2 separate regions of the Homo sapiens genome follow, and region 2 is linked to region 1. The links come from fine-mapping of genetic effects on gene expression. A gene starts in region 1. The other region holds a variant in brackets. All regions are shown on one strand. Distances are between the middles of the regions.

Evidence for each region. PIP is the estimated chance that this variant, and not a neighbour inherited with it, causes the effect.
Region 2: its variant is fine-mapped to the expression of ZBTB33 in whole blood (TOPMed, PIP above 0.99). The same link has a PIP of 0.9 or more in T cells and blood mononuclear cells.

Annotation. Positions count from the first base shown.
Region 1 is chrX:120,248,907-120,253,305 of GRCh38, forward strand. ZBTB33 (zinc finger and BTB domain containing 33) reads left to right here and starts at 1,906. Exons shown (of 3, transcript NM_001184742.2): 1 at 1,906-2,071; 2 at 3,763-3,864. It also overlaps a transcript of TMEM255A not described here. RefSeq lists an enhancer at 1,613-2,451.
Region 2 is chrX:120,299,983-120,304,381 of GRCh38, forward strand. TMEM255A (transmembrane protein 255A) reads right to left here. Exons shown (of 9, transcript NM_001104544.3): 2 at 4,367-4,399. Among named protein-coding and RNA genes, the nearest start is that of TMEM255A, 9.3 kb to the right of the region's middle. The variant G/A (reference allele first, on the strand shown) is at 2,630.

The sequences.
Region 1 (4,399 bases):
ATTGCATTGTGCCTTCCAGTTTACTGAGAGCTGACCAACAAACATGATATCTAGAGTGGCATCTATTGCCACTGTGATCTGTATTTCAAAGATATGTCTCATTTTAGTTTTCATCAATTAAGCCACTGAAAGATAAATAGATCCTAAACTTTCAAGATATACTTTGTTCTAATTACTAAGATTTTTTTTTTTACTACTAAGTTTTGGGGAGGATAACTCAGAAAAATGGTTATTAAGTACTCAGTTGCCAGGAAAAATACTAATCTGCCTTAGTTTATTTTACAACAGCATACTTCTATTTGCCATGAAATATCTTTATAGTAAACAATGAAACTTTTCATAATGCTAAGTCCTAATCAAAAATCAATAATGCAATAATTCCCACATAGTTTGTTTTCCCACAATACAAAATCTTGGAGAAGAGCTTAAGGAATTGCATATTTCCATGTGAAATACAGCTATATTATACCACTTTGATGTTTTATTATACCATGTGGCTTTACTTTATTGAGGAGGATGAAGAATAGATTAGGGATAGGTAGATGAGATGATGACATCCATGTCTGATTTCCTGTCAGAGAAAATTAGATATAGTTACATCTGTTTTCAGTCTAATATCCTGATGGACATTTTCAGCAAGATTTTTTAGGAAAGAAGCACAGGAATTCCACTGCAAGGTATTAATAGGTACAAATTTAAGATTTTGGAAATGAATGCAGTATTATCCTATATATATCTTTTTAAAAAGATAATGAAGGTAGTGAATGGCCTTAATTATGGCAGAAAAAAAGTTACTATTTGGTTCCTTAGTTGAATACGATCAATAACCAGCCTAAAAGGGAAACATTTTGCTCTCCAAACACCCATCCTGTTGCTTCATTTATTATGGTACTCAGTTGGAAGGGTATTACCAGAGGATTTTAAAAAATTATGTAACTCACAATGTATTTTTTCGGTCATTAAACAATCACTGAACACATACTATGTGTCAGACACTAAAGCCCTCTGAAGATGAAATGTTATGGAAATAGTAATAATAAAAAATTAAAATAGTAACAATAAAAAATTAAAAATGCAAGTGTTAATATTATTAATCTTTCAAGATACAGGTCAAATGACAGCATTCAATTTGCTATTCTCTTCTCTCTGCTTCTACACCTTGTACAAATATTTTTGTCCATGTTTGTGTACCTACCTACTGAGCTCCCTAAAGAGGTAGAGACCTTTGGGTTATTCATTTTTGTATTCCCGAGAGCCTAACATAGGGTTTTTGCTACAGATCAAGCAGGGGGTCAGTAAATGCTAGTTGGAATGAGGGAATTAACATAGTACTGCACCATTTAGTATTCAATTAAGAAGATAGTTGTCCAAACACTAAATTTCTTTCTTAAAAGTAGTTACTGTAATGTAGTTGCTCTCTTGTTATCCCAGAACTTGAATTACCATAAGAAGTTGTGAATTTCTATTTGATTGTATGTATTTTGATTATATTTCAAGATGGTTTATCATCTAGCAAACAGTCTAATAGAGCAGATTCAAACTTGCAAAATAAATGAAACCTGTATAGTCTCTAAAAGTTTGTATGCCCTAGAAGTTCACATTGAATTTCGATGAAAACGACTCGCTTCCCTTCCATCCAATTGCTTGCGACTGTCTTACCCGATCTTTCCCTTTCCTTTTTTCCCACCCGTTAGCCCTCCGGAAAGAGCCGAACACACAAGAGCTTCCCAGTCTTCCTCCGCCCCCTTGCGGAAAGAACCGAAGGCAGAGCACGGCGCCGAAGTGGAGCCGCCTCAAGCTCGGGCCCTTCCGGACCACCCCGGCCTGCGCTCGGAAGAGGAGGGCGCCTTTGGCTTCAGCGCTTCGCCCCCGCGCTGTGCCCTCTGTCGGCGGCGTGGGGCAGCTGTAGCAGCGTTGGCGGCAGGAGGCGGCGGCCGCGTCGACGTCGACCCAGACTGGAGCGACGTTTAAAGAAGGGGCAGAATCGCTGGGGAGTGCGGCTTCTTCTTGTTGGGGGACTCCCAGCCTTCCGCGCGTCCGGAGGAGGAGAAGCGGCGGCGCCGGGAAGCAGGTGAGGACCCGGCCCCAATCAGGGAGGGGGCGAAGGAGCGCGCTTGCCTTCTCCGTCCCTGGGCCGCGCCTGCGTTTGCATTCGCCTCACTTGAACCAGGAAGCGGCAGAGTCGGAGGCTCAGCTCCTCCGGCTCTTTCTTTGTGTGGGCCGGGGAGCGAAGGAGGGGACGAGCCGCGAGGGCCGCGGCGCGGTCCCCTTCGCCGTTAGGGGCCGAGGGGCTGCCGGTGCCCTGGGTAGGCCCCGGGGCTTGGGGAATCCATCACAGAGACCCACTTGGCTTTTCCCTCGCCCCTCTCGCTGCTTTTTTGTGCCTCTTTTACTCCCCTAGCCCCTACTTTGATTTAGAGCTTTTCTGCCAGGCCCATCCTCCCCTTCCGTCCCCTTCCCGGGGCACAACAATGCCGCCTGCTTCGCTTCATCCCCCCCCCAACACCCCACCCTGCCGTTCGCCACCTTCTACTTTCCCTGGTACCCCATATTCCTCCCGCCCTCACTCTGCTGTTTGTACCTCCGTCTGTATTTGCAAGAAGCTTGCTTTGCACGTGAATTGGGGTTAAAAACCTCGGTTGCAGCTGGCAGGGTCCATATGGGGAAGAGGGAGGTGGAGGAAGGGAGATGAGGTTCAGCTGCCGCAGGGAGCCGCGTGTCGGTTTGTTTCACTCCCTCGCGGATGGCTTTTATCTCTTTCCACCGTCACCAGCTCCTCCGAACTGGCCCTCGGTCAAGGGTTTCACAGTGATGTGGAATGGCTTTTCCACAGTCGAATCGCATATCTTCGGAGTGGGTTCAGACCGACTTGTGCTGTCTCTGGGGCCACCCTGAGTGGGAGGAGGGGGACACATAAACGAAACGAAACCGAGTCCCAGTGTCACCTGGACACGTACATTTGACGCATTCCCATATTGGAAGAACCCGGGAGCAAATGACAAAAATTGCGTGCCGTTTTCAGAAAACCTGTCTTTCCACTTAATATCGACTTCTGTCGAAATGCCCGTATTTCGGAAGCCCTGGTTTTTGGCAAACTGTCCAAAGGTCACCCTTTCTGATGATGAATGCCTTTATGGTAACCTGGAATTCCTTGGTACTGTTAACATGCAACACCTTCTAATAATGTTTTAAATCTTGATTTTTAGACTTTTTGCCTGCTGTTTGTTCTTAAGGTATCATTTTGAAAAATTTAGAAGGTATTTGAGACAGAACTGCCCTCCACCTGTATATAACTTAAGCATTGTGACATCGACACCCTTTTGGTAACTTCAAAGGGAGAGAATATTAATAAAAATATTTCTTCACTAAAAGTACTTGTCAACTAATTGTTAATATATAATATCCATATATTAAAATATATCCATATATAATATGTATGGATATTATATATTTTTAATATATGGGTTTTTTTAAACTCTGGCCTCTTTGTTACTGGAAATATCTTCTGCAAAGTGCAAAAAATGATGTTTTGCTAGTGCTACACAACAATGCATTCTACTGACATCATCCCCTTTTTCTAGAGTAGTCTATTCCAATAAGTTAATGTTTTCATTTTCACTAACTCATTTGGTGTGGAAAAAATTCTCATACCAATGCATATGATTCTTTACCAACAAAAATAAAATGTTTCGTGTTTTCTTGGAAGTGGGCATTTAGAAATGGTAAACTTTCCTTTTCCTTTGTCATATTTTTTCATGATAGTGTCTGTTGACTTCACTTGGCACTGTTTAACATTCCACCTCTGGAAATTGTAAAGATGGAGAGATGAGGGGAAGGGACAAGGGGATGAAGAAAGAGGAAAGGGTAAGAAAGATGTTTAATAGTTTATCAAGATGAGGCACCCCAATTTAAATAACAGAAAAATAATGGGACGTTGGGAGGTAATAATTGTCAGTGTTTATAAATGTCATTGGCTCCAGGGTGTAGATTCTGCATATATTCTTAAAGATTAGTTAAAATTAAGAGTATGTATTTCAGACACAGTATTGCACGCGCTGAGCTTTTCTGACATTTCAATCATTTACAGGCGAAATAACTTCTGTGTGTTCATGATGATTTTCCTTAATTTTGACAGTTAAAAGTCAACTCTTACCTCTTCTTGGAGAGAAAACCCAAAATTGGGACTAAGAAAATTAATTCTAATCTTTAAAAATCACTTAGTGGAGGTGCATGTATCTAATATTCAAAAAAAGGTGACTATGGAGATTACTGTTCAAATCTCTGTAACAATGTAAAACTTGCTCAACTCAGGAGCAAGCCATGAAATTGGACACTTGTTCCAAAAGCCAACCTGTATGAACAATTTCTGTAAAAGCCAAAAAATTATGCTGAACTTTGG
Region 2 (4,399 bases), 51 kb after region 1:
CCTGGGAAAGGGGGCAGAAATTCTTGCTCTCTTTCCTGAAAGAAGACTCAGGCTAGTATGCGCCCTAATAGTATCAATATAGCAGCTGAGGAGAGGGTGCAAGAATGAAAGGCTTGTCTCACTATCCAGGGGACCAACTCCATCTTGTGGGTTGCTTGGGAAACACATTTAGAGGCCTCTTTTTCCTGCATCTAAGGTAAGAGGAGGTGTACCGGGAAGCAGCAATCACCCTCCCCTGTCTCTTTCAGCTTCAGGCAACAAATGAAGCTCTTGGGTTTTTAGGCCTTCAGAGTAGAAAGCTCATCTGAACCCTCCTGAAATAAAATGCCTTGAATATTTGAGGACAGTAAAATTCTTAATCCAGTTTGTCTTTGTTTGTTGGTGTTCGGTTTTTGTTTCTGTTTTGTTTTGTTTTGTTTTTTTGAGACAGGACCTCGATCTGTCACCCAGGCTGGAGTGAAGTGGCGCGATCTCAGCTCACTGCAACTTCCATCTCCTAGGCTCAAGCGATCCTTCCACCTTAGCCTCCCACGTAACTGGGACTACAGGCTCATGCCACAGGGCCAGGCTAATTTTTTTTTTTTTTTTTTTTTGTAGAGATGGGGCTTTGTCATGTTGTCTAGGCTGGTCTCAAACTCCTGGGCTCAAGTGATCCGCCTGCTTCAGCCTCTCAAAATGCTGGGATTACAAGTGTGAGCCACCGCACCTGGCCGTTTTTAGTTTTTAAATTTTATTTATTTATTTATTTGAGACAGTCTTGCTTTGTGGCCCAGGCTGGAGCCCAGTGGGGTGAGTGATCATGGTTCACTGCAGCCTTAACCTCCTGAGCTCAAGAGATCCTCTTACCTCATCCTGTCGAGTAGCTGGGACCAGAGGCGTGCACCACCATACTTGGCTAATTTTTTATATATATACTTTTTGTAGAGATGGCGTCTCACCACGTTGCCCAGGCTGGACTTGAACTCCTGGCCTCAAGCTATCCTCCCACCTCAGCCTCCCTAAGTGCTGTGATTACAAGCATGTGCCACCGTGCCCAGCCTGGTTTTAGTTTTTTTAAAACTTTACAGTTCAGACTGTACAGACTAGCACATCTTTACAGAGGCATGTGTGCGTATGTCTCTTAGAACGATGATACCACATGCTAGCTCAGGTAGAGTAGCTAACATGCCATGATAATGCACCTCACTGTACAAAGATATCTCATTTGGCAAAATAAAGATGCTCCCAAAAAGCTTCACGTGACTTAGAATTATGCAAATTGAGTTATATTTTAAGTACCTGAGATCACAATATTTAAATGATTTGTATGGTAAGTCTTCTTTTAATCTAATAACTTCTCCCTAATTTGTCTGTTTTGAAAATTTAAATTCTCATGGATTGTTAACACATTTAATCAGAGTCTAAAACAGCAGAGTTCTAAATAAGCTGAAACTTTTTCACAGTTCTATACATTAGTAATTTATATTTAAAGTGACCACTTTGACAGTGCAGAATCTCCAGATGACACATTATGATCCTTCTGGTTTTATTGCTAAGCATATTTTACTGTGTGTTAATTCTCCAGGTGGTTGCTAGTCCACCTGAATTAGACTCCCCCCACCCCCCACGGATTCTTTCCCCTCAGGTGGATTCAACATTTATTACTTTTTCAATCAAAGGTTAGTTTATGAAAAGAAAATTCAGATTGCCAGGGCCCATGCAGACCAACTGAATCAGAATCTCTTGGGCTAGGGAGTAGAGATCTGCATTTTTTGCAGGTTCACAAGGTCATTCTTATTCACATCAGAGTGGGGAAACCACTGGTTTGGAGTTTCTATAGTAACTCCCTAATAACCAAGCTATTCAGTTAATGAAAGTACCCCATTCCCAGACAAATCTGGATTCTCAGGCGTTTACTGTTTCTGAGGTATGAGTCGTAATTGTATTTGTTACAACGTGATCTGACCTATAAACTCAAATGGATTTTTCTGCTATTCAATCTGCTGTCTTTTCCCCTTTATTTTATGTAATTAAAATGCATTTTAAAGAAGCAATCTCCAGGAACTATGAGAGCACATTTTTAAAGGTTAAATCATGGGGGCACAGTGTCCGTTAGGGATGGCTTTCCTATTAACACTTCCATATTAGCTCTTAGTGAACCACTCACACGCAAACACACGCCCCCACTGCTTCAACTTCTAGTGCTAGCTGAACATCAGGTACTTGAATAACAGCAATCAGGCACCCTCCTTCCTTTGTTAACGTATTCCAACCTAGCCACCCACAGTAAGATATTCCACAGAGAAGGTTCACAGCCACTGTTTATGAATAGGAGTTCATACTCTTAAATAACATGGAAAATACCTTCCCCTCACCCACAGAGACTCTAAATCTTGGCTTCAGCATTTGCTCATCAGTCAGAAATATTTTACTAATGCAGCTACCTGAAATACACAAAGTCAAGCAGACCCTATAAATTGCTTTTCCAAGCCACCGAAATGCTATCTTACCCCCTCTGTTCCTCCCTGCACACCCACCCCCCGACCCCCCACCGGCTTTGCTTGTGTTTAAAAATAAAACCCAATTCTGCTGACGACTGGTTTTCTTGCCTCACCACAGGAAGTGCACTGGGTGAGTTCTCACATCACAT[G/A]TTTAACACAGGGCACCAAACAGTGTCTGTGGGTCACCTGCCCTCAGCTGGGAGGAGCCCTGCCTGCCCTGGAGCTGTGGAGGCACTTCCCCCAGCAGCCTTCAGCTCCAGGAAGGCATAGCCTGCAGCCCACTTTAGGTCCCAGCTTCTCAAGAGCTATTGAGGAGGCTGACTGTGGAATGAAATCAGTGACCTAGGCAACAGGCTCCAGGCTTGGTCACTTATAGCTCTGGCTTGTCCAAGGCATCATCTTTAATCTCCCCTCTCGCTTTGCTTCTCTCTCCAATCCCCACCTCTCTCTCTCTCTCTCATTTCATTTCAAAGAGAAATGAAACAAAACAACAACAAAAAATACATCTGACCTCTTTGCTGTACTAAAATATTTCTTAACTGAATTGTCCTAAAGGTCCTTCTGCTCTCTAACAATTGAGGAGCCATTTAATTGGTGTTTAAAATATGATCTCACCTCTAGAGTTAGGTTTTTGGGTTCAACAGCAGTGTACGTAGACTCAAATTAGGTTTTGGTTTTTCTAATGCAACTAGTTTAGCAGTCTCCAAAGGGAACTGCATGCACCCTAGGGTAGATAAAACAATCCACTGGAATACGGCTGTTTCCTATTTATTGTTTATCTAAAATAATAAGAAACCAAACATTACTAATATTTAATAAACAGACTGTCACTGGCACCCTCTGTCCGTGTGAATGTCAGGTGATCAGGTGAACTATCCTTCTGGAGGAGGGCAAGTTCCAAGCAACAAACGGTTGATGGTGGGGCATTTTATGTGTGCCTGGATTGTATTATCCAATTTTAACGAAACTAGTCTCAACAAAATGGATAAGAGGCTTGAAAAGATTCCTCTTGAGAAACCAGAAGTTGAAGATGACCCTAATAATGTAAGCAAACGTAAGCAACAAGAAAATGGCAGAGTTTAATACTTCTAACTCCCAGGGTAGATTTTTGGCAGCCAAATTGTGATATTGACATTTAAAAACATGACTCCAATGACAGTCTAATCATATGGGATAAGAAGGCAGCCAAAAATATTCACAATTATCTAGTGGGCCATTTGAAATAAGGATTTAAAGCCACTGTCTTTAATGACAAGCTTCACACTAAGTGCATATTATCTGGTGACATTTTAGTTTGTGTTCACATGAAGATATTAAAAGTTATTGTATACTTATTTTTATCTAATTTTTGAATGTTCATTTTTATATAAGTTTTATGAACATGTATATATATAATTTATAAGTGAATAAATATACATATTTTAGGAACATATCTTCCACAGCTTTTTCTGATAGGAGTGCAGGATCACTTTGGAGATCAGTGCTGTTGGTCAGAGTGTCAAGCTGCCAGGATCCTCAGATTTCAGGTGAGATCAGATGACCTCTATTATATATGGGAATGCAGATGCCCGGAGAGAAAGGACCTTAGCCTAAGGTTAACACTGCTGGTAACATCTCCTAAACCAGAAACCTGAGGTATTAAAGAGTGAGATGACTTGCTCAGGATCACACTGTTAGATAGGGATGGTGCTGGATTCTTCTGATTCTCAGTCCAGTGCTCTTCTTAGCGGGCCCAGAGTTGCCTCTCCACATAAATATACAGAGATACAAAGGAGGAAATCTGAGCAAACACTAGACACTCAAACAGAATTGAAAACTATCAGAGCAGAGCCAGAATTTCTGTAGACAGCAAGCTACTGCGACCTACCTGTGCCTTCTATACTTACAATAACTCCGGGGTAATAACCTCCTACAGTCAC